Homo sapiens: one gene and its partners. The protein of the gene in region 1 interacts with the protein of each later gene in a pairwise test. Each region holds a gene or a part of one and is shown in the gene's direction. Other genes may lie near its edges. The genes, in order: LIX1, TSACC, DOK4 and APPL2.

Region 1 (8,779 bases):
TTATCAGGCTTACTTCTTTGAGAAGTCCATATCATTTTTCTTGGTTCTCTAGTGGTGATATTAAATATCTTGGTTTTCAATTCAATATCACATTGAAAGTACTTCATTTATACTTTGTGTCCAATCAATGGATAATAGCTTTTTTGTCCACAAAGCATCTAATTTCTGTTTTAGATGATAAACTCCTGGACAGCAAGGACATTGACAATTTCCTATTTGGCACAGCTCATATAAAGTGCACTTTGGGACCCTGTTTAAAGAAAATGTCTTAACATGAAGGGCCACTTCTTTCAAGTTCTTATCTTATACAATGTCTTTGCACTCTGGGGCAACCCTGTGTCTGTGTTCTGTGTGGCATATACTCCCTGCGGGCATTTGCTAAGTGATAGTCATGATATGGTTTGGCTGCGTCCCCACCCAAATTTCATCCTTTTTTTTTTTTTTTTTTTGAGACAGAGTCTCACTCTGTTGCCCCAGCTGGAGTCCAGCAGCACAATCTCGGCTCACTGCAACCTCTGCCTCCCCAGGTTCAAGCAATTCTCCTGCCTCAGCCTCCCGAGTAGCTGGGATTACAGGCATGCACCACCACGCCCAGCTGATTTTTGTATTTTTAGTAGAGCTGGAGTTTCACCATGTTGGCCAGACTGGTCTCGAACTCCTGACCTCAGGTGACCCGCCTGCCTCGGCCTCCCAAAGTGCTGGGATTACAGGTGTGAGCCACCACACCTGGAACCAAATCTCATCTTGAATTGTAGTTCCCATAATCACCACGTGTGGTGTGAGGGACCTGATGGGAGGTAATTGAATCAGGGGGGTGATTACCCCCATGCTGTTCTCATGATAGTGAGTAAGTTCTCATGAGATCTGATGGTTTTATAAGGAGTTTTGCCTCTTTGCTTGGCACTTCTTCTTCCTGCTGCCATGTGAAGAAGGATGTGTTTGTCTCCCCTTCCACCATAATTGTAAGTTTCCTGAGGCCTCCCCAGCCATGCTGAACTGTGTGTCAATTAAGCCTCTTTCCTTTATAAATTACCCAGTCTTGGGTATGTCTTTATTAGCAGCATGAACTAATACAGTGAGTATAATAGGAATTATTATTCTAGTTCGGTTCCATCTATTTCCTTTTATGAAGCCTGCTCTTCTACAAACTAGCTGAAGAAGCTGATCACATGGAAGGTATTTCATTTTTATACAGTCTTTAAAGGTCTACTTTCAGTTCATCATAAAATACAACCTAGTTATGGAATCTGAAAATTGGAAGAAACACTGGAAAGCAATCTTTGTGGCTACCCTGGAAAAATATTTTAAATAAAAGTTTGACAATCCTCAACAACCTCCTTCAACAAGTAACATTGGTTACAACCACTAAAATTAGTTATTTTATATCTGGTATAAATCCTTATTATGGAAAAGGAATCCTGTGACTTATATTTATGTCTTCTATGGAAAGATTATTTAACAAAGTGTTACAGGTAGTATAGATCATGAATAGGTAGAAAAAGAATTTCTGTTTTCTTAAGATCTTTAAAGGCCAGGCATGGTGGCTCATGCCTGTAATTCTAGCACTTTGGTAGGCCGAGATGGGTGGATCACTTGAGGCCAGGAGTTTGAGACCACCCTGGGCAACATGGTGAAACCCCCTCTCTACTAAAAATACACAAATTAGCCAGGTGCGGTGGCGTGGGCCTGTGGTCCCAGCTACTAGAAAGCCTAAGGTGGGAGGACCGTTTGAGACTGAGAAGTCAAGGCTGCAGTGAGCCCGGATCATGCCATTGCACTCCAGCCTGCATGACAAAGTGAGACTCTGTCTCAAAAAAAAAAAAAAAAAAGGATACAGCTAGGGACTAAATTAAGCCTTGCATTTGAATTCAGGAGCCACTCTTCTGGAAGCCAAGGCTTGTTACCCCCCACAACCCTCCCAAATTTTAGTCACTTCTATTGGGCAGGGGCAAGTAAAACCTGACAGACTGTCTTACAGCTTGCCTGGGAACATTTGTTTCCCTATTTACCCTTCAAAGTGAATCATTCCCAAGGTTGACTTTAATTAATTCTGATGTAATTCACTTCCTTTCACTTAATAATTATTAAAAATTTCAGGGCAGGGTGCAGTGGCTCACGCCTGTAATCGCAGCACTTTGGGGGCCCAGACAGGATGATTGCTTGAGCCCAGGAGTTTGAGACCAGCCTGGGCAACACAGTGAGACCCCATCTCTACAGAAAATTTAAAAATTAGCCAGGCGTGGTGGCGTGTGCCTCCCAACTACTTGGGGTGCTGAGATGGGAAGATTGCTTGAGTCCAGGGCTCAAGCCCCTCACTTGAGTCAAGGCTGCGGTGAGTTATGATCACGCCACTGCACTCCAGCCTGGAGGACAGTATGAGACCCTATTAAAAAGAAAAATAAAACAAAGAAACAGGACGAGAAAATACATATATGTTTCTTAAGGTAGTTATTGAAAGATTTTTTTAAAAAATTGAGACAGGGTCTTACTTTGTCACCAAGGCTGGAGTGCAGTGGCACAATCTGGGCTCACTGCAGCCTCGACTTTCCAGGCTCAAACCATCCTCCTGCCTTAGCCCTCCAAGTAGCTGGGATCACAGGCATGCACCACCACACCCAGCTAATTTTTGTATTTTTTGTAGAGTTAGGGTTTCGCCATGTTGCCCAGGCTGGTCTGGAACTCTTGGGCTCAAGCGATCTGCCCGCCTCAGCCTCCCAAAGTGCTGGAATTACAGGCATGATAAACTGCACCCAGCCCCATAATCTTTATAGCACTCCTTTACCAAAGAAGAATTACACTGAAAATTTAGATTTATAGGGATTATACTGTTAACATATAGCTGGCAGTCCTGAGCTGGAAGCTGTCTTGTCATTCAGGAAATTTCCTGGAGAAATAACCTTCCTGATTCCATATTCCTGGGGGCAACACAATTGAAGATGGAGGGCCAGAAGAAATACTCAAGTCAGAAAGCTGCACAGCATTCAGACAAAATCTGGTTGGAGAGGAAAGCTGTTTTCATAATTTAGCGAGCTTCCCCAGCTAGCCTGTAGGTGGGTGTGTTTAACAGAAGAAAGCAATGGGAACCCGCCTGTCAGCCAGCCTTTCGAGCTAATTAGCTCAGCATACAACAAAGATAAGTGAGCCTGGGAAGAGGGCCCCCTGAGGGGTCTTTAGATTCTGGGAAATGTCTGATTGGCAGATGTTAAAAGGGATTCCTTGGTAATCCAGTGCATCAATGAGCTGCAGAAATTCAGCCCAGGACTGCAAGAATTCAGGCATGAGGACACTCTGTACAGGAGGCTCACACAGGCAGACCCAAGATGGACAGAACCTTGGAATCTCTGAGACACATCATTGCCCAAGTCTTGCCTCACAGAGATCCGGCTCTAGTCTTCAAAGACTGTAAGTACTGAAGGGGGAAAAGTTTTTTGACTTTTTAGAAAATAGTCCTAAACGTCAAGTCACATCCTATTTAAGTAAGATTTCTCCTAAATCTCTGCAGTCGTATGCTGTGTTCTAAGTGATATTTTAACTTGTTCCTGACTTCAGCCAGAAGAACGATTTCATTTCACCTACAGGCATTAGGCACTGGGTTATTCTGTCAGTGATACATCTTGCTAACTACTTAGAAGTCTCTTCTACAATCCAAGACCTGCCTAAGACTTAATGAACTTTTTCTGATGCTTTTTAAGTAAAGCAAAGCTGACTGGTGTTGAGATTAAACCTAAAAATAATTTGGAAATGATACTAGAATATATCAATATTTGTTAACCTGTTTAATACTCCACAACACATATTAGCTATGTTAATTCAAGTATCGTGTTTGTCTGAAAATATTTGTTGCAAACCAGAATTAACAGTAAATCACCACTGAACTTTTAAATTTTGATAACAGATTATAATGCTTTAGTTAAAAGGCCAATAAAATGAGATGCCTCCTAACCTCAGCAACACTCCCTGTGTGGACCCCCTACCACCATCACCAATTTATACAGCATGGCAAAGTTATTTCAAAATCTTTTTTTTAATGATTTAAAAATAATTCAATCAAGATTTCCAATTCTAGCAATACTATTAAACCATTTGTCATATAACTTCGTTTCTGGAACCAATTTGATTTCCTGCTGCTGCAAAACAGACTATCTTCATGTTGTATCTTATCTACAGTGGGTTTCATATTACAAAGGGCTTCTGAAATAGAACTGCCCAAAAGGTAAAATGCATATGGAATTTTTTTTAACTTCAATAGGTTGCAGCTTTCCTCTTTGTGAATCTAGTTGTGTTTGTCTCCATCAAAACATCAATGGTTTGAATTTTTGCTTTCTGATTGCTGAATAACGTTCCATTCCAGATGTCCTCTTAGCTTAGATTTCTCATATGTATGTTGAAGAAAGAGGAATGTTAGGCCATTTAATTCTATAAATTTTTCCTCTTAGATGTTAAATTGTAACCAATCTGTCCTTTAAGGCATAAAGTGAAAGCCTTTTCTTTCTCTAGCTCTCTTTTTAAATATTGTCTTTAGGCATTTGCCAATAACTATGTTAGATCTAATAAAAATCACTCTCTCCACTACTCTAGCCTGGAGTCTATTCAGGTTTGTTATGTTTTTTAAGCGAAAAGGGGAGGAAAGAATGTCTCTCTCCTACAATAGAACTGATTCACTAGTGAGGGATAAAAGGGCTCTCGGGCTGCCCAAGCTTTGGATAAATTGTATAGGACCAGGGTTCTTATGCTGAGCATTTAAATAGGGGAAGCAGTTAAAAAAAAAATAGGGGGGACGTTTTTCACTGGCCCATTGAAAACTTAATAAGTTCAAATGTGAAACTGTATAGCTCATTTTTTAGCTGAACTAAATTGCTGCGATTGTTTACAGTTTAGAAAAGAAGATAGACTAGAAAAAGGATTACAATAAAGCATACATTAAGTTCTGTCATCCAGGACTTTGCAGGACTTCTTTTATATGGGAGAACAAATAAGTGTCCTGTTTTATATATTTCATTCATTAACATAGAACCTATATTTGACCAGAGAGCATTGCCTGTTTACCCTAGAATGGACTGCTACTCGGCAACTGCTTGCATGGCTTAATAGACGTGAATATTAAACTGCCGATTCTCTCCCTTCTTTTCTAATCTGAAAAATGACTAAATGACAGTAAGCCAAATGGCACATTTCTGTACCAGGAGTTTTCCTAACTTTAAAACATCCAACCACTTACCAATCTCGTGGAATAAGTGGGAATGGGCTGCTTACTTTCTGGGACAGGACATTAAAAGTCTGTCTGGAGCCTATGCCATTGCCCTGGCAAGCTGTAGGTGCTGCACACGCCAGAGTTTGGCATATGGTCCCATTTTCTTTGGCATACCCATAAGTTGCTGCCACCACACTCCTATTGGCAGCCTGTAAAAAGCTGCCACCAGCCTTGAATGGCAGGTTCTGAGCAGTCCCCTCTCCTCCTAGTCACTGCTGGCTCCTCCTCCACTCTAACCTGCTCCAAGCTCTTTCTGCCAGAAGGAAAGAGCTGAGCACTTGAGCACATCACTGCCAATTCCTTAAGAAAAATTGCTACCTTACTTTCCTACAAGATGAAAGCTGATCCAAGAATTTTTAAAACCCAGCCCAGTTGAACAAAAGAATAAACACACACAAACACACAAACACACACACATGCACACACAAAACACTTTTAAATTTTTTCTTAATTTATCTTCCATGAATGCAAACACAGTTTTTCTCTCTTCACTCTTTGGTTATACATAATCCAGGGAGTGTAAATGATCATGCAATTCATTTATTGCCCTCAGTTGGCTTTTGATTTGCTTAAAAACAAGCAATAGTAACTGAATTTTCTCTTCAAGTTGGTTAGAAAAAGCACCCAGAGAGTTTTCTGGTCTGAAACAGATGCACATGGGAATAGTTACATTCATTTAAAGAAATAAAATTCAAATGCTTTCTCAGATGAGGAAGCTCTTCAAATGGTATTTTGCAATACATTAAACCTGTCATTTTATTTTATACAAGGCGTTCATCTGGCAATAGTTGTGATTTGTTTCTTTTTTTATTTTCTCTTCTAGAAGGAAATAAATTCCATAACACTTTTTTCCTTTTCCCTATTTCACATTTCATATGAAAAATAATGGAAAGAGGTTTTAAATAAGATGGACTCCCAATTTGAAATTTGTTCATCTAAGCTGACACTGGACTGTTCTCCCCTGCATAAATGTCTCTATTTTAAAACAAGTAGCACTGGAAGTCTCCACACTACCAGGCAGAATCTCTGCAAAGTATAGCTTGTCTCCATATTGCTTTCCATTCTTGGCTTTGTGCAATATCCAATTTCGTTTCATGTGTCATGCATCACAACCAAAGCTGAGCTATCCTAAAAGCAGCCCCTGTCCACTCTTTTGAAGAAGTGTGTTAACTTACTATTCATTTGCCACTGTTTGACAATTCCTTGCGTACTTTCTCAAAAGAAATCACCACATGACTTCAAGATAGCTATGCTTTCAGATCCTAATCTGAGTGTTAACTCTTCATATTACAAGAGCACAATACATTTATCTGCCATCTTTGAGCTCTTTCTTCAACCATTTAATAGTAAGGCTAAGACATCAAGTCCTCATCATGTGATAGGCACTGTACTAGAAACATTTATTCTTCACAGTAAGCTAGTAATGTAGGTACAATTGTTGTTAGAGGTGAGGAAACTGAGGCACACAGAGGTTAAAATGACGTGCCCAAGGTCACTCAAGGTCACACAGCTAGTATGTGATAGAGCCAGGAATCAAATTCTGTCTTCCAACTCCTTACCTTGAAACACTATGAGACATTGCCTCTCAGAAGTGCTAGTTACCATGTCATTAGTGTTGTAATAGCAGTACAGGTTGAGTATGCCTTATCTGAAATGCTTGGGACCAGAAGTGTTGTAGATTTCAGATTATTTTTGGATTTCAGAATATTTGCATTATATATACTTTAGCACCCCAAATCTGAAAATCTGAAATCTGAAATGCTTCAATGAACATTTCCTTGGAGTCTCATGTCAGCAATTAAATGTTCTGGATTTTGGAACATTCTGGATTTTAGGTTTTTGGATTTGGGATGCTCGACTTATATCTGTTAGGAAAACAGAGGGGAGAAAAAGGAACTCTACCAGGAGCATAGAGGGAGCCCATTAAATAATCACATTTGAACAGAAGTGTGACAAGAAAGTGGTGAGGGGCAGATAATTTTTGATGAGATAGAACAGCTTGTCCAAAGACAAACTGGGCAATACAAGAACCATGTGCTGGGGGAGGCAGAGACAGACTGAGGAGGCAGGTTGGGTCATGCTGACATGCCGGCAATAGGGAGCCATTGGAGTTAACAGTAAATTAGTTCTGGAAGTTTATGGCCTTATGTTGCGTTGCGGAAAAGTTTATATTGACATTGGTTAGAGGTACACATCCGAATACCTAAGTTAGGGAACACTGCAGCTTTTTCTTAGCAAGAAACCATTTGCCAACTCAGACAAGATGCAAGATTTGTAAATGTCAAACATGCCTATGAGGAGAAACCACTTTCACTGACTGAAGGCCAAAATCAGGGCAAACTTTCTCAAAAAGATTGTTTAAAAAGTATCTTAATTGTCACTGTAGCCATGAGAATGAGTTGGTTTCTAGCATTGACTTATGAAGTGACATGTAAGATTTCACTGAGATTTTTTCCCAAATTTTATAATGAAAAAGTAAGATGGATCCTTTACTAAGCGTTGAAAAATTGGAAGCAAATTTCTCACATATTTGAGGTGCATTAACTCTTCCATTTGGGAGAACATTTTTCTGCATGAAAGGTTTTATTTATATCAGATAGGTGAATACTTTACTTCAAAGAGTACGTTTTTTGCCCTTTGGAAAAACTGGACCAGACTACAGGGCTATTAAAAACATCTTAGTAATCATGAATCTAGCTATATGCAGCATGAGAGAGCAAGAATCCTCAGGAGTCAAGTACTTTATCCACCCCATGCTTTTTAGTACAGTTATGTGAAATCAATAAATTTATAGTTTTCACATTTCACAGAAAGGAATGGAGTAGGATGTAAAGGCTGAAGATTCTTGTGCAGTAAAATCCCTATACATATTGCATTGCATTCCACCACCCCTGAAAAAATACAGTTTAAAACCACAAAAAAAAGCCAAACAAAAATAAACCCTATAGTGCTTGCTAGCTTATTTTAAAATAATGAGTGCATCTTAATTACAGTAATTTGAACTCTGCTAATTTTAGCATCTAAACTATGGATGTCTGTTTGACTGAAGCCTATTCAAATGCTAATTTTACTTTATTTATCATAGGGCCTAATTATTTTTATTTGAATTTATACTAAGGAAGAAATATAAATTTTAGTACAGCTATCAATGGCATAAGAGCTGGTTCTTTTTTTTTTTCAGTAAATATACATTTGACAGAGTTTAAAGTTAAATGTATAAAAGTCTCAACCCTAGAAGACAGGTTTTCAAACTGGAAAAAATAGGTAGCTTCTTGATCACTTTATGGCTTTATCTGTCCTAGTACATTTATTTCTCATAGAAAAGTAAGATTTAACAGATCAAAATAAATATGATAGACACCTATCCTGTGAGATCAAATCTGGGACCTCTTCATTGACTGCTCTCCCATCTCACCAGAGGTCTTTGGTGGTGGTTGCTGTTGTTTTTAACAGTTAAGATTTGTTAGTCTGAACTCAATTTTAACAACTTCTGAAACTCATGTGTTAAGTTACAGCCCATAATAGGAT
Region 2 (2,985 bases), on another chromosome or scaffold:
GTGCAGGGATCTAATTAGAAAGGCTGTCCCTTGTTGGAATGAGCTCTGATTTAGTTATCTCTGATTTAGTTCCAGCCAAAGAGGAAGCTAATGCTGTGCCTCTCTGTAGAGCAAAACCCTCCCCCAGCTATATTAATCTTCAAGCAAGTTCCCCACCAGCCACTTTTCTGAACATCCAGACAACAAAGCTGCCCTCGGGTAAGGATGTAGGGAGGGTTTTCTAATGGACTCAACAGGGGGAAGGGTTGCATGGAGGAGGTGGCTTGAGCTGTCGCCTATTGATCAAGAGCCAAATCTATGTTAGGCATCTATAGATCTTTCCGTGATAGCTTGTTGATTATTTAGTTTCATTGATATCATTATCATCCCAGTTCTACCAACTTGTATTGTTTCCTTGCTTGTTAGCACTTTTGCTAGACTAGGCAGGAGTGAAGTGAACCTCTCATTGCTTACTGGTAATGTTAGTTAAAAGATGGCCAGGTTTACCCCTGTTCACTTGGGAAGGTAAAATTTTAAAAAACGGTGGCTAGAGAAGGAAACTATTAGCTCAGTCTCAGGGTCTTTGAATTTTCATCATTCATCTTCCCTTGGGGAGGTCAGTGGGTATTTGGCATAGCTATGGGGAACCCAACAGGGCACTAACTAGACAGTCATAACCCCTGTTTTTGAGGACCTCAGAGTCCAACAAAGAAGTCAAGACTGATAAAAATACAAACAGCAGATAATATAATTACCAAGGTTAACTGGCTGTGTAAAATATTAGAAAAAGTGGCTGGGCACGGTAGCTCATCCCTGTAATCCCAGCACTTTGGGAGGCCAAGGCAGGTGGATTGTCTGAGGTCAGGAGCTTCAGACCAGCCTGACCGACATGGTGAAACCCTGTCTCTACTAAAAATACAAAAATAAGCTGGGCGTGGTGGCAGGTGCCTGTAATCTCAGCTGCTTAGGAGGCCGAGGCAGGAGAATTGCTTGAACCTGGGAGGCGGAGGTTGCAGTGAGCCAAGACTGGGCCATTGCACTCCAGCCTGGGCAACAAGAGTGAAACTCCATCTCAAAACAAACAAAAGAATGGACTGGCAGGGCTCGGTGGCTCATGCCTGTAATCCCAGCACTTTGGGAGGCCAAAGCGGGCGGATTACCTGAGGTCAGGAGTTTGAGACCAGCCTCACCAACATGGTGAAACCCCATCTCTACTAAAAATACAAAAATTAGCTGGGCATGGTGGCACCTGCCTGTAATCCCAGCTACTTGGGAGACTGAGGCAGGAGAATTGCTTAAACTGGGAGGTGGAGGTTGCAGTGAGCCAGGATTGTGCCGCTGCACTGCATCCTGGGAGACAGAGCAAGGCTCCATTGAAAAAAAAAAAAAGAAAAAAGAAAAATATTAGAAAAAGAATGGACTGGCCAGGTGCAGTGGCTCACACTTGTAATACCAGCACTTTGGAAGGCCAAGGCAGGTGGATCACCTGAGGTCAGGAGTTCGAGACCAGCCTGGGCAACGTGGTGAAACCTCGTCTCTACTAATGATACAAAACTTAGCCAGGCATGGTGGCACATGACTGTAATCCCAGCTACTCAGGAAGTTGAGGCAGGAGAATTGCTTGAACCCAGGAGGTGGAGGTTGCAGTGAGCTGAGATCGTACCATTGTACTCTAGCCTGGGTGACAAGTGAAACTCCGTCTCCAAAAAAAAAAAAAAAAAAGAAAAAGAAAAAAAACAATGGACCAATGTAGCAAGAATGGTTGAAGTTAGGGAACTTCAGGTCACTGCTAATGATACACTATGTCAAGTAACAGAGGAGGCTGAGGTATCCCCTGAGCTCTAGGGAAGGTAGGCCTCCCTCCCAGACCATTTCATTCACTCATCAAATATTTGTTATATGCTGGGCATTTTTCTAGGTGCTAGGGTTAAAGTAGTGAACAAATCAGATAAAAATCCTTGCCTTCCTGGAGCTTACGTTCTAGAAGGGGGACTTAGACAAAAATTAAGTAATTATAAAATATGCCATATGACCATAAATATTATGGGAAAAGTGAAACAAGGGAGGGGGTAATAAGTTCCAGTGATTGATTTCAAATTAAAATAGGATAGCCAGGTATGCCTCACTGGGAGGTGACAGCTGGGCAAAGGTATGTCTGGGTTGGGTTGTGCCTGGAAAGATTGGAGAGGTCATTTTATTAGGGTCCTTCCAACCTCAGTACAATTACCAAATCTCTCTCCTTTGTTCCCTTGCACCTCCGTTGCTTTTCCTTCTGGAGTTGATCACAAGCCCAAGGAATGCCTAGGACTCCTGGAATGTATGTATGCAAACCTCCAGCTTCAGACCCAGCTCGCCCAACAACAGATGGCTGTTTTGGAACATTTACAGGCATCTGTGACACAACTGGCTCCTGGGAGGGGAAGCAATAACTCTTCTCTCCCAGCCTTATCTCCTAATCCATTGTTAAATCACCTGCCCCAATTCAGTAAATGAATTGTGGAACAAAGTTATTGTGTTGTTTTCCTCTCTCTTCCCAGTAAACCCTTGTTGGAATCTGGGTATATGTATTCTACATATGGTTAGTTTGTTCACAGGTTCATAATAAGTGCTCACTGAGTGCAAAGCGTTGTACAAGGCACTTGGGGTTACATATTACAAAAGGAGTTTGCAGGGATTACTGTCTAACAAAGCAGACAATTCATTGCAAAATGTAGTGGTATTCTGAAAGAGGATGGAGGTTAAGAACTAACACTGGAGGTTACTAGGATACAACTGGACCAATTTTAGAATCTTGCTGGAGAAAGTGGCTTCATGATGCCACTTGAAGAAGGGAGGGGTTGGATGGCATGGACAGATGAAGTCAGGTAGTTCCATATCAGTTGGGAAGCTTGGACAAAGACCTAGAGGTAGACGTATTAGTCCATTCTTGCATTGCTATAAAGAAATACCTAAAGTTGGGTGATTTGTAGAGAAAATATGTTTATTTTGGCTCATGGTTTGGTTCTG
Region 3 (7,186 bases), on another chromosome or scaffold:
CGGCAGCATCCATCCATTCATCCATCCATTCATTCACGGTTCCTTCATATGGTCATTCACTTGTTTAGCATGGCTGTTAATGAGGCTACCAGGATATGAGTGAGGATTCTGTGGATAAAATTCAGTGTCTGTCTTAAGGGAGCGCTGCAGCTGAGAGCTGAGGGCTGCTGTGGTTTAGGTGGGTAGGACAGGGGCCAAGCCAGGGTCAGGGGTGCAGGAGCAGACATGCCTCCTAGGGTCCCAGATAGGAGCCAGAAATGGCCTGGCTCTGAGTGGTATCTTGAAATGGGGGCTGCCTAGGGCCACTGCACCCTGGGACCCTGCCTGCCAAGGACCTAGTGTACGCATGGCACAGTAGGGCCGAGGAGGGGTGGGGCCTAGAGGCCCCCTGGCCTCCTCTGCTGTGCTCTCGGCCACCACTCAGTCTCCCTACTGTTTCCAGTAAGAGGAACACCAGAGATGCCTGGGGAACAGGCTCTGTCGGGCTTTTGGAATGCCCGCTGGAAGGAGTAGGTAAACCCCAGCCACAGACTTTGGGCAGAAAAAAGTCTAGGCAGGAGGGAGGGGTCATGCAAGGGCAGCTCTGGCTGGTGGCTGGGGCCAACTCCCTCTCCACCACCCATGAATGATAGGCCAGTCTGTCCCTTCAATCCTAGAGTGGTCACTCCCCTCTGCTCCCCACCCCCTTGGGGGAGTCCCTGAAGCTACAGAGAATGTAGGTAGTTTAAGGTACAGGGGCATCAGCAGTGGCCAGGGCCAGGAGGGAAGGCACCATGCTGTGGGAGGAGCCTCAGATTCCTAGCTCCACCCCTTTACCTCAAACAGCTTTGGGTTCCCAGCTGGAGCAGGGCCCCTTACATTTCAGGGTTGGTAAGAGAATGAAAAGAGAGGGTGAGTGAAAGCCCCAGGAGACAAGAGTGGGGGTTACCTTTGTAAAGACCCTCACCTGACTCAGAGAACTAGGGGCACGGGGATGTACAGGTGGGCAGGGGGAAGGGTCTAATCCCTATCCCCAGGAGACCCCTCTGTTGTGGCTGGCACTGCCTGAGCCCTGGCCAGATCCTGCAGTGGGCTGTGAGGGTCTGCCCTGGATCTAGACAGCCTGCTGCAAATACCAGCATCACCATTCCTTAGTGTTTTGATGCCTCCCTTTCCCCATCTATAAAATGGGGATGATAACAGAACTGATCTCAGGAGTGGCCCTGAGACTGTGCACAGTGCTAATAACAGGTGTGAGCAGGAAGCACTCAGGAACGTTGGCTACTCACACTAAACTCAGCGGTGCACACAGTACATGGCAGGTCAGGAGAGCACCCTTTGTGGAACAGCGTTTTGGAGCCAGCCAAGAAGTCAATGACTTTTCAATTTGGGGAGGAGGCTTCTCTCCCAGGGAGGTGACACTGCTGGTGACTCCCACCCCCGGTGTCCCCAGGCTGGGGCTCCAGGGAAGGCTGTGCGGCACCGCCCCCTGTGGCAGGCAGGGGTGGCTGCAGGGCCATGCTGGTGGGGTGGGAGTGGTCCAGGGAGGCCTGAGCCCTGTCATCTCGCTCCACAGATCTACCGGAGGTGCTGGCTGGTGTTCCGGAAATCCTCCAGCAAGGGGCCCCAGCGGCTGGAGAAGTATCCAGATGAGAAGTCGGTGTGCCTCCGGGGCTGCCCCAAGGTTAGGAGGCCTGGGCCCTAGCTCCCCCAAGTGGCAGGGCTGTGGGGGATGGAGAGAGAGAGAGGGAGAGAGGGGAGAGAGGGAGAGAGGGGAGAAAGGGGGAGAGAGGGAGAGGAGGAGAGAGAAGGAGGAGGGGGGAGAGAGGGAGGGAGGGAGAGAGAGAGAGAGAGAGAGAGAGAGAGAGAGAGATGCACTGGCCTGGCTAAGTCCCTTGTGGATGCTGTCCCAGGTGACTGAGATCAGCAACGTCAAGTGTGTTACGCGGCTCCCCAAGGAGACCAAGCGGCAGGCGGTGGCCATCATATTCACTGATGACTCGGCACGTACCTTCACCTGCGACTCAGGTGAGGCGCGAGTATGGGCCTCCATCTGCCTCCCCTGGGGTGGTCTTGGTCAGAGGTCCAGCTAGGAGCGGGCAGAGCAGGGCTAACCCTGGGTGGAGATGGTGGTGTGGTGTGTGTGGGGTTGGGGGTGCTTTCAGGGAGCAGGCCCTCAGGGTTGAGGCAAGACAGGCAGGCAGAACCCACTGTCCTTACCCTCCCTGCTGTGCATGGTGGCATAAGTCAGGCTGGGCAGACGGGGTGGGCTACCGGGCTCTGGAGCTGCATGATGAAGTAGCATTTTCTTCAGAGCTAGAGGCAGAGGAGTGGTACAAGACACTATCTGTGGAGTGTCTGGGGTCCCGCCTCAACGACATCAGTCTGGGAGAACCTGACCTCCTGGCCCCAGGGGTGCAGTGTGAACAGACAGGTGAGGCCGGGCCCTGGCCCTGGGGGTGGGGAGGGGGAGGAGGAAGAGAGGAAGGGAGGGAGGAAGTCCCCATCTGGGGCAACTCTGGTCCCACTTGTCCACCCTCCCCCACTCCAGATCGCTTCAATGTCTTCCTGCTGCCCTGCCCCAACCTGGACGTGTATGGCGAGTGCAAGCTGCAGATCACCCACGAGAACATCTACCTCTGGGACATCCACAACCCCCGTGTGAAGCTCGTCTCGTGGCCCCTCTGCTCACTGCGCCGCTATGGCCGGGATGCCACACGCTTTACCTTCGAGGCTGGCCGGTAGGACCCTCTCGCCTCCCAGCCCTGTCCTACTATGGTGTGATGGTGGCTGCCATTCACTCTGTGTTGGGCACTGTGCTAGGAGCTTGGTTTACTTATTGGCCTAGCAATCCCAAGGGGGAATGTAATGTTCCCATTTTACAGACGAAGAAATGAAATGGAGGCTTAGAGGAGTAACTTGCCCACAGCATGCAGGTCAAGTGAAGCTATTTACCAAAAATCATATACTACTTTGGCTTAAGTCAAATGCAGGTTCAGGCACTTACTACTTCTGTGACTGTGGATCTGAGTCTGGGTTTCGGGGATAATAAAGTACCTAACCTCCTAGAATTATAGTGAAGACTGGGTATCCCCTCACTTGAACTCTGGAGTCAGTCTGCCTAGACTGAAATTCCATATAATCCTCTGCAGAACCTTGGTTGAGTTACTTAGCTTCTGTATGCCTCAGTTTCCTCATCTATAAAATGGTTTGGGAAAATGCATAACAATGAGGAAACCATTAATGGTACAGAGACCAGAGGGAGGTGGTAGAGAAAACTGAATGGGTTAATTCTTATAATGCATTTCAAGCACCAGCTGGTATAGAATATGCTCAGCACATTTGCACCGTGTGGTCGGACCCCCAGACCACAGCCCTACCTGTCCTCCCGGCCTGGAATGCAACCACAACTTGCAGTTGCAAGAGAGCCTAACTAATCACATGCATGTCTGTGGTGGGTCCCCACCATCTTGCCCTCTGTGCTGTGTCCCCAGGATGTGTGATGCTGGGGAAGGACTCTATACCTTCCAGACACAAGAGGGGGAGCAGATTTACCAGCGCGTCCACAGTGCCACCCTGGCCATCGCAGAGCAGCACAAGCGGGTCCTGCTGGAAATGGAGAAGAACGTGAGGGTGAGGCAGCGGGCATCAGTCCAGGGTACGGGGGGAGGGGGGAACGGGCGGGCAGGCAGGGCCAAGTGCCTGGGGTACACAGTGGAGGCAGGTAGGGTCTTGGGGTGGCTGCTCAGGGATACTGTAAGCCACTAATGGGAGTGACCCCTTCCTTTGCCCCACAGCTGCTGAACAAGGGCACGGAACATTACTCGTATCCCTGCACACCCACGACCATGCTGCCGCGCAGTGCCTACTGGCACCACATCACTGGTTCCCAGAACATCGCCGAAGCCTCCAGCTATGCTGGTGAGTCGCTTCCATGCCCCACACCCACCTGCCAGGAGGCTTTGTGGAGGATGAGGCCTATTGGGCAGGGGTCTTTTGACCTAGCTCTGAGTTCTGAGCCTGCTTCTGTGCCCACAGGTGAGGGGTATGGGGCAGCCCAGGCCAGCTCGGAAACAGACCTCCTCAACAGATTCATCCTGCTAAAGCCAAAGCCCAGCCAGGGGGACAGCAGTGAGGCCAAGACCCCATCCCAGTGACCACAGTGCTGGCGAGCACCGATGACTGCTGGGGGCTGCCTGCTGCGGGGCTGGCTGCAGTGTACCGTGGACAGCCTCAGGGGGCTGTCGGCCAAGAGCCTGGAGAAAGGGAGCAAGCTGCCCCCTCCTTGCCCCCAAGGATGAGGCTGGACTGAGGCAAAGGGCTGGCCACACCACCTGAGCATGTGTGAGGGGTTGGAGCTACCGTGGGACTATATACTGTTAATGATTTTAATATATATGGCTTATGACATACTCTGTATCAATGAGATCCCCTCACCCTCACCCCATCCTTCCCCACCAATACACACAAATTTTTTAATCCCATGACCAGGCCACGGTCAAGGCTGTTTTTGAGTATGAGTGCAGTCGTGTCCATCCTCCATGGCACAGCCCTCCTGCTGCCAGGACCTGCTTGAACTACCAGGGCCACAGGAGGGGGATAATCAGAGCTTGAGGCTGGCACTCTGACTGCTGGCTTTTCCCAGACAGCCCAAGGGCCGGAACAGCAGGTGGCTTCTCAGTTCCTCTGGGCCTGGAGTGACACAGGAAGGATCTGCACTTCCTCTGTGCTGCTTGCCAGCCTTGCAGTTGGAGTTTTAAGCAGAGGTGACATCTGGTTGACGCCTCAGGTGAAAATCTGGTTTTAAAATGTAACTTCTGCACAGGCTCCTTCCTGCTTTGTAGGCTGGGAAGATGCCCCTGGGGTAGGGGTGCTGATTACCTCAGCCATGTGGAGGAAGGCTGGAGCTTGTTCCTGCCCCAGGAATAGGCCAGGAGGGAAGGCCGCAGCAGGACTGCCGTGGGGAGCACCCCTGCTGCCCCCCTCTCACTGACCAGGGGTGGACAATGCCCAAGCAGAGGGAGCCCCCTTGCCCTGTTTGGCCACCCTCTGGCCAGCCAAAAGCACTCTGAAACCAAGACCTTCCCATTTCCTCCTCCCCACATGGTGCTGAGGCTCCCTGCTGCAATGCAATTAAAGCAATTGATTTTCTAGTGCTGGTATTTGTTGACTACCATGCAGAAGGGCTATCTTTCTATTCACGTCAAACTTTTGGTTGTGTGGGGTTTTTTGTTGTTTTTTGGGTTTTGTTTTTTAATACTTTAGGGTCCTGATTTGTGGGAACAGACCTTCTTGTAAATAACCACTATTTGAGTTGTGGCAGGAGGATGATAAAGCACGCGGCCCCTCCCAAAGGAGCCCTTGAGCTAGGGAGGTGGTGCAGTCAGCCTCGCTCTCAACGTGACCCGGGGAATGACCACCCAGAGGGATGAGCTAGCCTGTAGAGGGGAACTGGGGTCCAAAGGTCTTTGGGGAGGGAGGCAGAGCTGGCTGGCTCAGCTAAGTGGCACGATGACGCATGAAGGAGATTATGTTGTGCTCTTTATTGCCAAAAATAAACACTTTTAAAAAGACAACTTCTGTTAATCAATAAATATCCTTTCCTTTCTGTACTGGATCTCTGGTTTTCTCCAGGCTGCCTAATTAACTGCTTTGTGCATGTTCCTATCTGGAGACAGTGCTGAGGGGTTAGGGCCAGAGCCTTCATTAAGGAGAAATGAAATACTCCTCCTGTGTATGTGGGAGGGGCCCTTGCTCCTGCGGCTGCTTCCACCCCCACCCCCACCCCCACCCCCACCAAACTAAATGATCAGGTCATTGGAGGTGAAGGGGTTCATGACTGCTGGACAGAGAATGAAATATCATGTTTATTTGGTGGGGAGGGGACAGCCAGGGTCTAATGCTATTCCAAAAGGTTACTTCTCAAATTAGGGACACCTGGGAATTTGAAGCGCTAGCAGGCCAGCCCTGGGGCAAGAACTGGAAGGGTTTATAGGCCCCCTGAATAAAGGCTATGGCACTTGATCCTCAACACCAGACATCTAAGGTACAACTGAAAATGACTCATTTTGGACAGAAAGGGTTTAGAGTAAAGAGCTGGACTAACCAGGAGAGAAGTCTAGTTGGTTCCCTACAGGTGCACTGGAAACACTCCAGCAGGGACCTTCTGGGATCTGGGGAGCACTGCTGCCAATTATTAACAGCAGTCAGGGCCAGTAAAGACCTATCCTGCCTAAACACCACTGCATCCCTGGTAATCTATCTATGACCCACTTCTAGTTGGTACTGATGTCCTGCCAAGAAGCTCAACCAACAGTAGACTAGATTCTCAGAAACGAGAAGAGTCTGAAGAGAGACCCCCATATCCAGCTGCTGGCCTGAATCTCCGTTTTTGCTGAAGCAGGCAAGCTGCAGTTAATTTATGGTTAGCACATCACTCTGGATCTCGTGGCTTAATTGAGTTTGTAAATCACTCAGTTTCTTCTTCAATCCTGAGAGGGCTGACAGGACAATGGTTTCAGGACGCAGAGAGCCACAGGACTCCACATTGTAGTAAAACCTAGGAGGCAAGAGTCCAGTGAGTGCACTGCGAGGCAGGCTGGCCGACCCGAGCTCTGGCCATGGACAACCCTTCCTCCTTCCGGGTCTTGGCTCTGTTCCCACATGGAACTTGACCTTGGGCCAGGGCTAACTTCCTTTCATGTAAAACCTCTTACATAGGGTAGTTTCAACACACTTTGCACAACCTCAAGGAGGCTACAACTACCTCATAAGGTACCTGTGAAAATCCTAAAGTTCTGTATGTATGCATGCCCCCTGAGGAGAGAGTGGAAAACCAAGTGAGCAGTGACCAGTGATAGACCTTTCACAGTCACCCTGTGGAACTTGGGTCCAAATCTCTGCCCCTAGCGTTGACCTGAAGAATCTCTTCTTTGGGGGCTGAAAATCAGAACAGGAACCACCTGGATAAATGGAGGGTCCTCTTTGTCAGTGACCAAAAGGGGCTGACGACCTGCCCCTGGGATGTGCACATACCACAGGTCTAGTTTAGCAGTCAGCAGCCCCTCCTCAGCTTATGAGAACTGCGAGGTGGGGGAGAGGGAATGCCTAACTCACGGCCTGAACCAAAACCATCCCTTCTTCCACACTTCACCTTCCCATGTCCAACCAGGCTCTTACCTTTCTGGCTTGCCGTTGGGGTCATAGG
Region 4 (8,150 bases), on another chromosome or scaffold:
TGGAAGGTTTTGAGAAAATGGGCGATGGTCAGAACCAGGGTTAGGGAAGACTATTCTGTACCTGAGTAGGATAAATTTTAGGATACAGGTTGTGGGAAGAAGGGGAGAGTGCAAGACCCAGTAGGATGTTGATGTAGTAGTAGCTGTGAAGCAGAACATGAGAACGTAAACAAATGTTTTTAAAAAAGAGGAGAAAGAGGCAACAAGTCCGAGAAACATTTCAGCACCGTAACTTAAGGATTTAACAGTTGATACAAGTAGCATGCTTTATGAAATGGAACTCTAAGGAAGACACTATATGAAAGGAAGTGGAACTAAAGATCCAGTCAGCGAGGGTTAATCCCGTAGCCTTCTCCTGGGTAAATGTATGTCTTCTCTTTGTAAAGTTACAAAAATGTTTGATGTGCACAATGGAGGGAATACCAGACCTGCAGTTGAGAGACATGGGTTCTAACGATATCTCTGCCTTGTGTTATACACAGCTAGATGTCCCTGAGTAAGTCAGTAAATGCTCTGGGCCTTTGTCTTCTCAGCCTTGTGACATACAGGGAACTAGCTAACCTCCTAGGACCCTTCTAGCTCTGATATGCCATCTCTCAAGGGTGTTGATGGATAGTTTAGGGGGGTTTGGAATTAGAAGGTGTGATACGTTTCCTAAAAAGACAATTTGCAGCCTATATTTAATTATTCAGTAACTGACTTTTCCCCCTATTCTAGAATAAGCAAGTCACATTCTTAGACCAAAAGGACCCCACAGAAGGGACACAGAAGACTCCCTGGGGGGAAAAAAAATGACTCTAGCCAGCCAGCTGAATTAGCCCAGTGATTGGATGGGTGACAGATGTGGCTGCCAGATGGCCCCAGAGCTGTGGGGAGAGGGATACTATCTCTTTTAGGGTCAGCCCACTGAGAATAAAGCAATGTTTTGATGACAGTGGGGGGGGAAAGAATCAGAGAAATTGTGTTCTTGGGAACAAACTGCTATTTACTTCTAAGCAAGTACCATGTGTGGACTTCCCTCATTCTGCAGTTACTATATATCTGCTGTTCATTCATTTATCTAGCTACTCAACAAATATTTGAGTATCTACTATTTGCCCAGGCCTGGCCTAGGTAAGAAAACGCAGGGATTACTGGGGAGAACAGGCAAAAGGTAAGCACAGGCTGAGTTAAAATGAGGGAAGCACCCCAATGTTAAGGAGATGAGGTGCTGTCATGGAGGGTGAAGAGGAGACCTGTGCAGGGCCTGGCTGTGAAGATAATATTCAAGCTGCAAAGTGAAAGACAAGACGCAGCCACTCTTGCAAAGAGCCAGAAGTAGTGTATTCTTGGTAGCAGTTGTGGAGGTAACAGGACAGAGAAGATCTTAGTATATCTGAGGAACTGAAAAAAGGCAGTGTAACGGGACAGTGGAGATCATGGGACAGGATGAGGGCGGGTGGGGAGGGAGGCAGGGGTCGATCAAGAAGGAAGCATGTGGGGAGCTGTGGAAGGGCTCTGAGAGGTGCGTGTTTGTGATGGAGACAGAGATACCCACTCTCCATTTTCCAAAGTTAGTTAGCTCTGGCTGCTCTGGAGAGCACAGAACAGAGCAAGTCTGTAGCCAGTGAGGAGGCGTCCCAACAGCCCAAGAGAAGATGATGGTGGTTTAGACCAGGATCACGGCAGAGATGAAAAGTAGATGGATGTGGACTTATTCTGGAGGTAAAACCTGTGGGACTTTTGATGGATAAGCGTAGACGGAAAAGGACAGATCAAAGGATGACTTCAGTTGGAGCTGAACACCTGGGCAGATGGTGTTTTTTAAAAAAAAGAAGAGTTCATGTTTTGGACATGTTAAGCATGAGAGGCCTGTGAAACATCCCAAATGAGTTGTCAAGCAGTCAACGGATGATACAGGTCTGGAGTGCAAAGAAAACGTCTGGTCTGGGTGTATGAATCGGGGACTCATAGCACTGAACAGCAGTGGATGAGGTCCTCTATGGGAGAAAGGAGAGGGAGGGGAAAGCAGAGCCTGCAACAGAATCCTAAAGAACTCCAGCATTTAGGGTAGAAAAGGAGCCTGCCAAAGACATTGAGAAGGAACATCAAGAAAGGTAGAAGGAAACTCTGTAAAATGTGGCACCAGCCGAAACCGAGAGGAGAGTTCAAGGAGAGATCAGCTGTGTTAGATGCTTTAAGTCAATTATGATGACTGCGAAGTGTCCATTAGAGCTGATGACATGGAGATCCTGTACAGGTGAAACTTAACATCATGTCACTCCTATGTTCAGAGTCTTTGGTGGCTCCCTATACTGTTGTGTCAAGTTCAGACCCCACCTGACGGTATAAGGGCCCTCTACAACCTGGCCTCACCCTATCTTGATTGTTATCTATCTCCCCCCTTTGACTCTCTGGGGAGCCAAAATCTTAGACTCACTTTCTCCCCTTGAAGCTTCTACTCATAGCTTTCTTCAGTGCTTACCACTTATTATATCACAGCCCTCTCTTAAAGACAGGATCAAACAGATGTGACTGTCCCATTTAGGGTTATTGAAGCAGTATGACATCCTGGAGATGCACTCTCCTGGCAGTGAGGAGACCCCTGTTTATAATCTGGCTCGCCCACCAGGTAACTGAGTGCCTTCAAAACTGCTCAATTTCTCCAGAGGCCTCAGTTTCCTTTTCTGTTAACAATGGAGGTCAGACCAAGTGGTCTCCAAGGGCTTGCCTTGCAGTGACCATCTACAAGCCTATGTACTGTTTCATCCACATTCCAGTCATTATGATCATTTGTCAAATGCCTGTTGTAAAGTAGTTTGATACACTACATTCAGTTATTGACATGTTTGAGAAATAGGAAAATATTGACATATCAAATGAACAGAAAGATCACTGAGAGCTTTTTAAGGTCCAGGCAATGAAAGAAATCAAAATACATTGATATTCTTTGCCCTTCAAAGGAGTTTATAGTCTGGCTGAGGAGAAAAGATTTTTAAAACGTTGAAAAGTTAAATTACAGTATTCTGAGACTGGAGGAGAAGAACATGTTGGTTCCTGATTAGTCTGTCCACAGAGAGCACAGTATTTGATGGGCCACAATGTCAGCAATGAGTGTGGGCACAATGCGAAGCTCAGGAGGCACACAGGGCCGCAAGACTGTGCCTGTGACTTACTGAGAAGAATCACAGGAGTTCAGAGGAGGGAGGCGGGGTGCCGGCTGGCCTAGTGGATAAGGAAGAATTTGAGCTGGGTTGGGAGAGTTGGGTGAGCAGCAGAATTGGGATAAAGATGGAAATAAGGAAAAGCATGTGGTATGTGTGGTACAGCTCTCGTAGAGGGTGCATTAAAGGAGTGGAAAGGGAGGCTTTTGGGGAAATTAGAGCCAGATGGTGATTAAATGCCAAGCCAGGACCTTTGGTTCATTCAGCTAACATTTTTTAGTGCCTACTATGTTCCAAGAATACATATGACTTAGCTATAGCATAGGCCCTCCAAAACCTGCCTCACAGAGAAGGATACAGACAGAAAACTAGTAACACAGTGCAGGATGCTGTGCAGCAGAGAGAACTGCAGGAAATGGGGCAGACTGAAGGTTTTTAGCCAAGGATATGAAGGAAGTTTGAAGAAGGTTTATTTGTAGAATGGATTAAGGGATTGAGGTCAATCTTTCCCCTTGTATTTTCATTCATAAAAGTCACCTCAGCCTTCAACAAGTATTCACTTGATTATAAAAGCGTAAGGTTAAGGGAATTGATTTTTTTCCCCTTCAGCCAGAACCTGAAAAATTCAGAGATGGAAAATGAAAATGACAAGATTGTTCCCAAAGCAACAGCCAGTCTACCTGAAGCAGAGGAGCTGATCGCGCCTGGAACGCCGATTCAATTCGATATTGTGCTTCCTGCTACAGAATTCCTTGATCAGAACAGAGGGAGCAGGTATGGGCTGAGAGAGGTTATCTCTGGGAGAACTGAAAGTAAATTTGAGGTATCTTGTGTCCCCCTCCACCACCAAAGACTGTTGCCATTCTGATTTCCAGTTCAAGTGTTAAGTGCCCTTCTAGCTGCAGCTGTCGTGTTTGTTCAACTCTGGCTATTCCCCTAGGCGTACCAACCCTTTTGGTGAAACTGAGGATGAATCATTTCCAGAAGCAGAAGGTAAGTGACTAGTTTGGTGTCCTTATTCTTTCCTCTGCACAAAATGACAACGGCCATTGAAATAAGATGTGAAATCATGTTTTAGAGAGCTATGATTAGGAGTATGAATTAAGATTTGTTGTTCTGAAAGTTTAGTAAGATATCTGCAGTGGAGGCAAGTCTTGGATAAAAACTGAGGGGTAGCTGAAAGACCACCTACAGCTATTTCACCATTAGCCATAGCGTTTTTGTAGCATAGCATAGAAATGTTGTGAAATCTGAATCTGTTATCACATTCAAATGCAGTCTTGGTGAACTGGAAATACGCTGTGTCATTTTAGAAAACCAAAAGCACAAATAACTTGTTCTTGAATTTGAAGATGACACAAATGATATTTAAGTCTTTCAAATTCAAATTTTTGGTTTTTTACATTCTTATAATGTACTTAAGAACGTATCTGATGGCCGGCACGCTGGCTCACGCCTGTAATCCCAGCACTTTTGGAGGCCGAGGCAGGTGAATCACGTGAGCTTAGGAGTTCAAGACCAGCATGGGCAACACAGTGAGAACCCTGTCTCTACAAAAATATATATATATATACAAAAATTAGCCAGGTGTAGTGACAGGTGCCTGTAATCCTAGCTACTCAGGAGGCTGAGACATGAGAATCACTTGAACCTGGGAGGCGGAGGTTGCAGTGAGCTGAAATCATGCCATTGCACTCCAGCCTGGGCTACAGAGTGAGACCCTGTCTCAAAAAAGAAAAAAAAGAAAAAACCTTCTTTGGTCTTCTAGTTATGGTTGCTGGGAGTCAGTTTTGTCAAGTTATGCGCCACTGTCAGCAGCCAGGACTGACTTCCTTTAGGCTATGAAACATCATCACTGCCTTTCCGTAATACACATGAAGTATGAATTGCATGAGACCCAACATGAGATCTTATATCCTGCAAATAAAATTTCTTTTCTAAGAGGACTTTATCAGTGGGCCAAAGTAATGAATTTTCTATTGTCTAGTGAACTCACTCTTTTCAGAGAAAAGGTACAATGTAGTCACCTAGAGTTTCAGCATTAGAAGGATGTTCATCTGGTACCACCATCATTTCATTTTATAGATGAAGAAAAGCCTTTCTAGTCTAATGAAGTAGTTCCAAACAAACTGACAAGATGTAGACAAATGGAAGACGCAGAGCTTTGGCAATATTGGGCTTATAAAAGTGGTATTGAGAAATTTTGGTAGAAAGTCCTCCACAGAAAGCAGGCAAAACTAGCACATCTGACCCTGGTATGCAGATCAACAGCAGCAGGAAGTAAATGAGATCCTGAGTGGAAAATGCTGTCTTCCAGATTCTCTTTTGCAGCAGATGTTTATAGTTCGGTTTTTGGGATCAATGGCAGTTAAAACAGACAGCACTACTGAAGTGATTTATGAAGCGATGAGACAAGTATTGGCTGCTCGGGCTATTCATAACATCTTCCGCATGACAGAATCCCATCTGATGGTCACCAGTCAATCTTTGAGGTACGTTCAGTTTTATTTTCAGACTTTCTTATGGCTTCAGCTAATTCCCCTTTTAAGGCTAATGCACCCATCTGAAATGTTAGTACTGGAATGAAGAGACTACTCTTGCTTTTGCCCCCACTACTTTTTACATAAGATAGATAGCCTAGAAAGTGCTCCCTTAGAGACAAGAACTGGTATCTTCAAAAATCCAGTGGTGAGTGAATACTGTTGTTCACAAAGATGCCATCACACTAGACTTATTCTCTATATTATAGCTCAGAGCTTGAAAATGGAAGTTTTTTGGTTTTGCTTTTTTTTTTTCATTTCTGAGAGTACTATTTATAAAAAATAATGGAAAAAAACTTAAAAATCTGCCTAAATAACTTGGCCATCACAGAGAGAGCAGGCCATATTAACTACATGATTTAGTGTTTCAGGTAATACGATCTGGGTTTCAGATATGACCAAAATCCTGGTTATGAACATGGGTGTATGATACTGTAGCCACAGGTAGCATCTGCAGCAAAACTAGCCTGAACTGAGATGTGTTTTCAGTGTTAAATACATACCAAATTTCTAAGATTTAGGATGTAAAACATCTCACTAATTTTTTAGGTTAATCACATGTCTGGTAATATTTTAGATATACTGGATTAAGTAAAATTAATTTTATCTGTTACTTTTCACTTAATGTGGCCGCTGGAAAAACTTCGATGACATATAAGGCTTCCATTACATTTCTAAGGGACAGCACTGCTTTAGAGCCAGAATGTCTCAGTTTATTCCTGGCTTCGGCATTTCTTAGTTATGTGACCTTAAGCAAATTTTTGAGCCTCTGTACCTCAGTTTTTTCAGCTGTAAAATGAAAGTAACTATTCACACCCTCCACTGTTGTCATGAGGAATAAATGTCATGAGGAATAAATGTGCTAATATATGTAAGACATTTACAACTCACTGGCACATGAAAAGTGCTCAATGAACGTTAGCTTCAAAAAAGGTAACTAGGACTATAGCAAAAATTAGGATATAGCTTCTTCCATTCATTAAGCCCATCCTTTTCATTTATTATGAACCTTATCTGAGAATTAAGTTCTTATTAATAAAACCTGTTCTTTCACTATGTCCTGGACCTTTTACAGAAATGGGCTCATGGTTCTTATAATCCTATTGGTCCTGGAATAATTTCCACCAAAAAGATCAAAGGAAAATATATGTAAAAGTACTGTGAAAAACCACAGCACATCAAAGTGAAAAGAAAAACTACAGAATGGGAAAAAAGTATTCACAAATTCTATCTAATATGGATGTAGTACACAAAATATACAAAGAACTCTTATAAAACTCAACAGAAAGACAACCCAATTAAAAAATGGACCAAGGACTTGAAATAGACATTTTTCCAAAGATCATATACAAATGGCCAATGAGGACATGAAAAGATGCTATGTGTTACTAGGGAAATGCAAAACAAATCCACAATGAGATATGTCACTCCATATTAAGATGGCGTGCGCACGCATGCACACTGTCTCACAGATGTTTATATATATATGATATATATGATATATATATGATATGATATATGATATGATATATGATATATATATGATATATCATATATATGATATATATGATATCGATATCATATATATGATATATATGATATATATATGATATATATATTTAATGGAAAATAAGCGTTTAGCAAGGATGTGAAGAAACTGGAACCCATTGCTGGTGGGAATATAAAATGGTTCAGCTGCTGTGAAAAAATAGTTTGGCGGGCTCCTGGGTAGTTACCCAAAAGAATTAAATACAGGTGTTCAAACAAAAACTTATACGCAAATGTTCATAGCAGTCCTTTTCGTGATATCCAAATGGTGGAAATAATACAAATGCCCAACATCAAATGAATGGATCAACAAAATGTGGTAGAGTTGAGCATTCCAAATCTGGAAATCTCAAATGCTCCAAAATCTGAAACTTTTTGAGTGCCAACTTGATGCTCAAAAGAGATGCTCATTGGAGCATTTTGGATTTTGGGATGCTCATCCTGGTAAATATAATGCAAGTATTCTAAAATCTGAAAAAAAAGCTGAAATCCAAAACAATTTCAGATACAGGATACTCAACCTGTATATATATATGATGGAATACTATTTGGCCTTAAAAAGGAACAAAGGACTGATAAGTGCTACAACATGGATGAATGATGAAATCATTGTGCTAAGTGAAAGAAGCCAGGTACAAAAGGCAACATACTGTAGGGTTCTGTTTATATGAAATATCCAGAGTAGGCAAATCCATAGAGACAGAAGACAGACTAGAGATTGCCAGAGGGTGGGAGGAGGAATGAGTAACTGCTTAATGGGGATGGAGTTTCCTCTGGGATGATAAAAATGTCCTGGGACTAGATAGTGGTAATGGCTGCACAAAGTTATGAAGACACTTAACATCACTAATGATAAATCTGACGTTATGCATACGTCACCACAGTAAACATACCCCTGCAGTGGAATAGGTTCTGAGAC

What was found.
Region 2: the proteins of LIX1 (region 1) and TSACC interact in binary tests that used the Homo sapiens proteins (3 or more experiments, as listed by UniProt).
Region 3: the proteins of LIX1 (region 1) and DOK4 interact in a two-hybrid assay, tested with the Homo sapiens proteins (one large-scale study listed by BioGRID and IntAct).
Region 4: the proteins of LIX1 (region 1) and APPL2 interact in a two-hybrid assay, tested with the Homo sapiens proteins (one large-scale study listed by BioGRID and IntAct).

What each region holds. Positions count from the first base shown.
Region 1 is NC_000005.10:97,137,118-97,145,896, reverse strand, and holds the start of LIX1 (protein limb expression 1 homolog), read left to right. Parts: upstream 1-3,285; 5' UTR 3,286-3,320; coding exon 3,321-3,402; intron 3,403-8,779.
Region 2 is NC_000001.11:156,344,511-156,347,495, forward strand, and holds the end of TSACC (TSSK6-activating co-chaperone protein), read left to right. Parts: intron 1-69; coding exon 70-198; intron 199-2,257; coding exon 2,258-2,472; 3' UTR 2,473-2,485; downstream 2,486-2,985.
Region 3 is NC_000016.10:57,470,327-57,477,512, reverse strand, and holds the end of DOK4 (docking protein 4), read left to right. Parts: intron 1-1,555; coding exon 1,556-1,663; intron 1,664-1,892; coding exon 1,893-2,007; intron 2,008-2,293; coding exon 2,294-2,413; intron 2,414-2,530; coding exon 2,531-2,720; intron 2,721-3,473; coding exon 3,474-3,612; intron 3,613-3,776; coding exon 3,777-3,900; coding exon of another isoform or gene 3,901-4,017; coding exon 4,018-4,136; 3' UTR 4,137-5,591; downstream 5,592-7,186. Other genes in the region: POLR2C (DNA-directed RNA polymerase II subunit RPB3), read right to left, coding at 6,394-6,538, 7,159-7,186. UniProt on the Homo sapiens protein: DOK proteins are enzymatically inert adaptor or scaffolding proteins. They provide a docking platform for the assembly of multimolecular signaling complexes.
Region 4 is NC_000012.12:105,185,758-105,193,907, reverse strand, and holds part of APPL2 (DCC-interacting protein 13-beta), read left to right. Parts: intron 1-3,752; coding exon 3,753-3,917; intron 3,918-4,083; coding exon 4,084-4,136; intron 4,137-5,460; coding exon 5,461-5,635; intron 5,636-8,150. UniProt on the Homo sapiens protein: Multifunctional adapter protein that binds to various membrane receptors, nuclear factors and signaling proteins to regulate many processes, such as cell proliferation, immune response, endosomal trafficking and cell metabolism.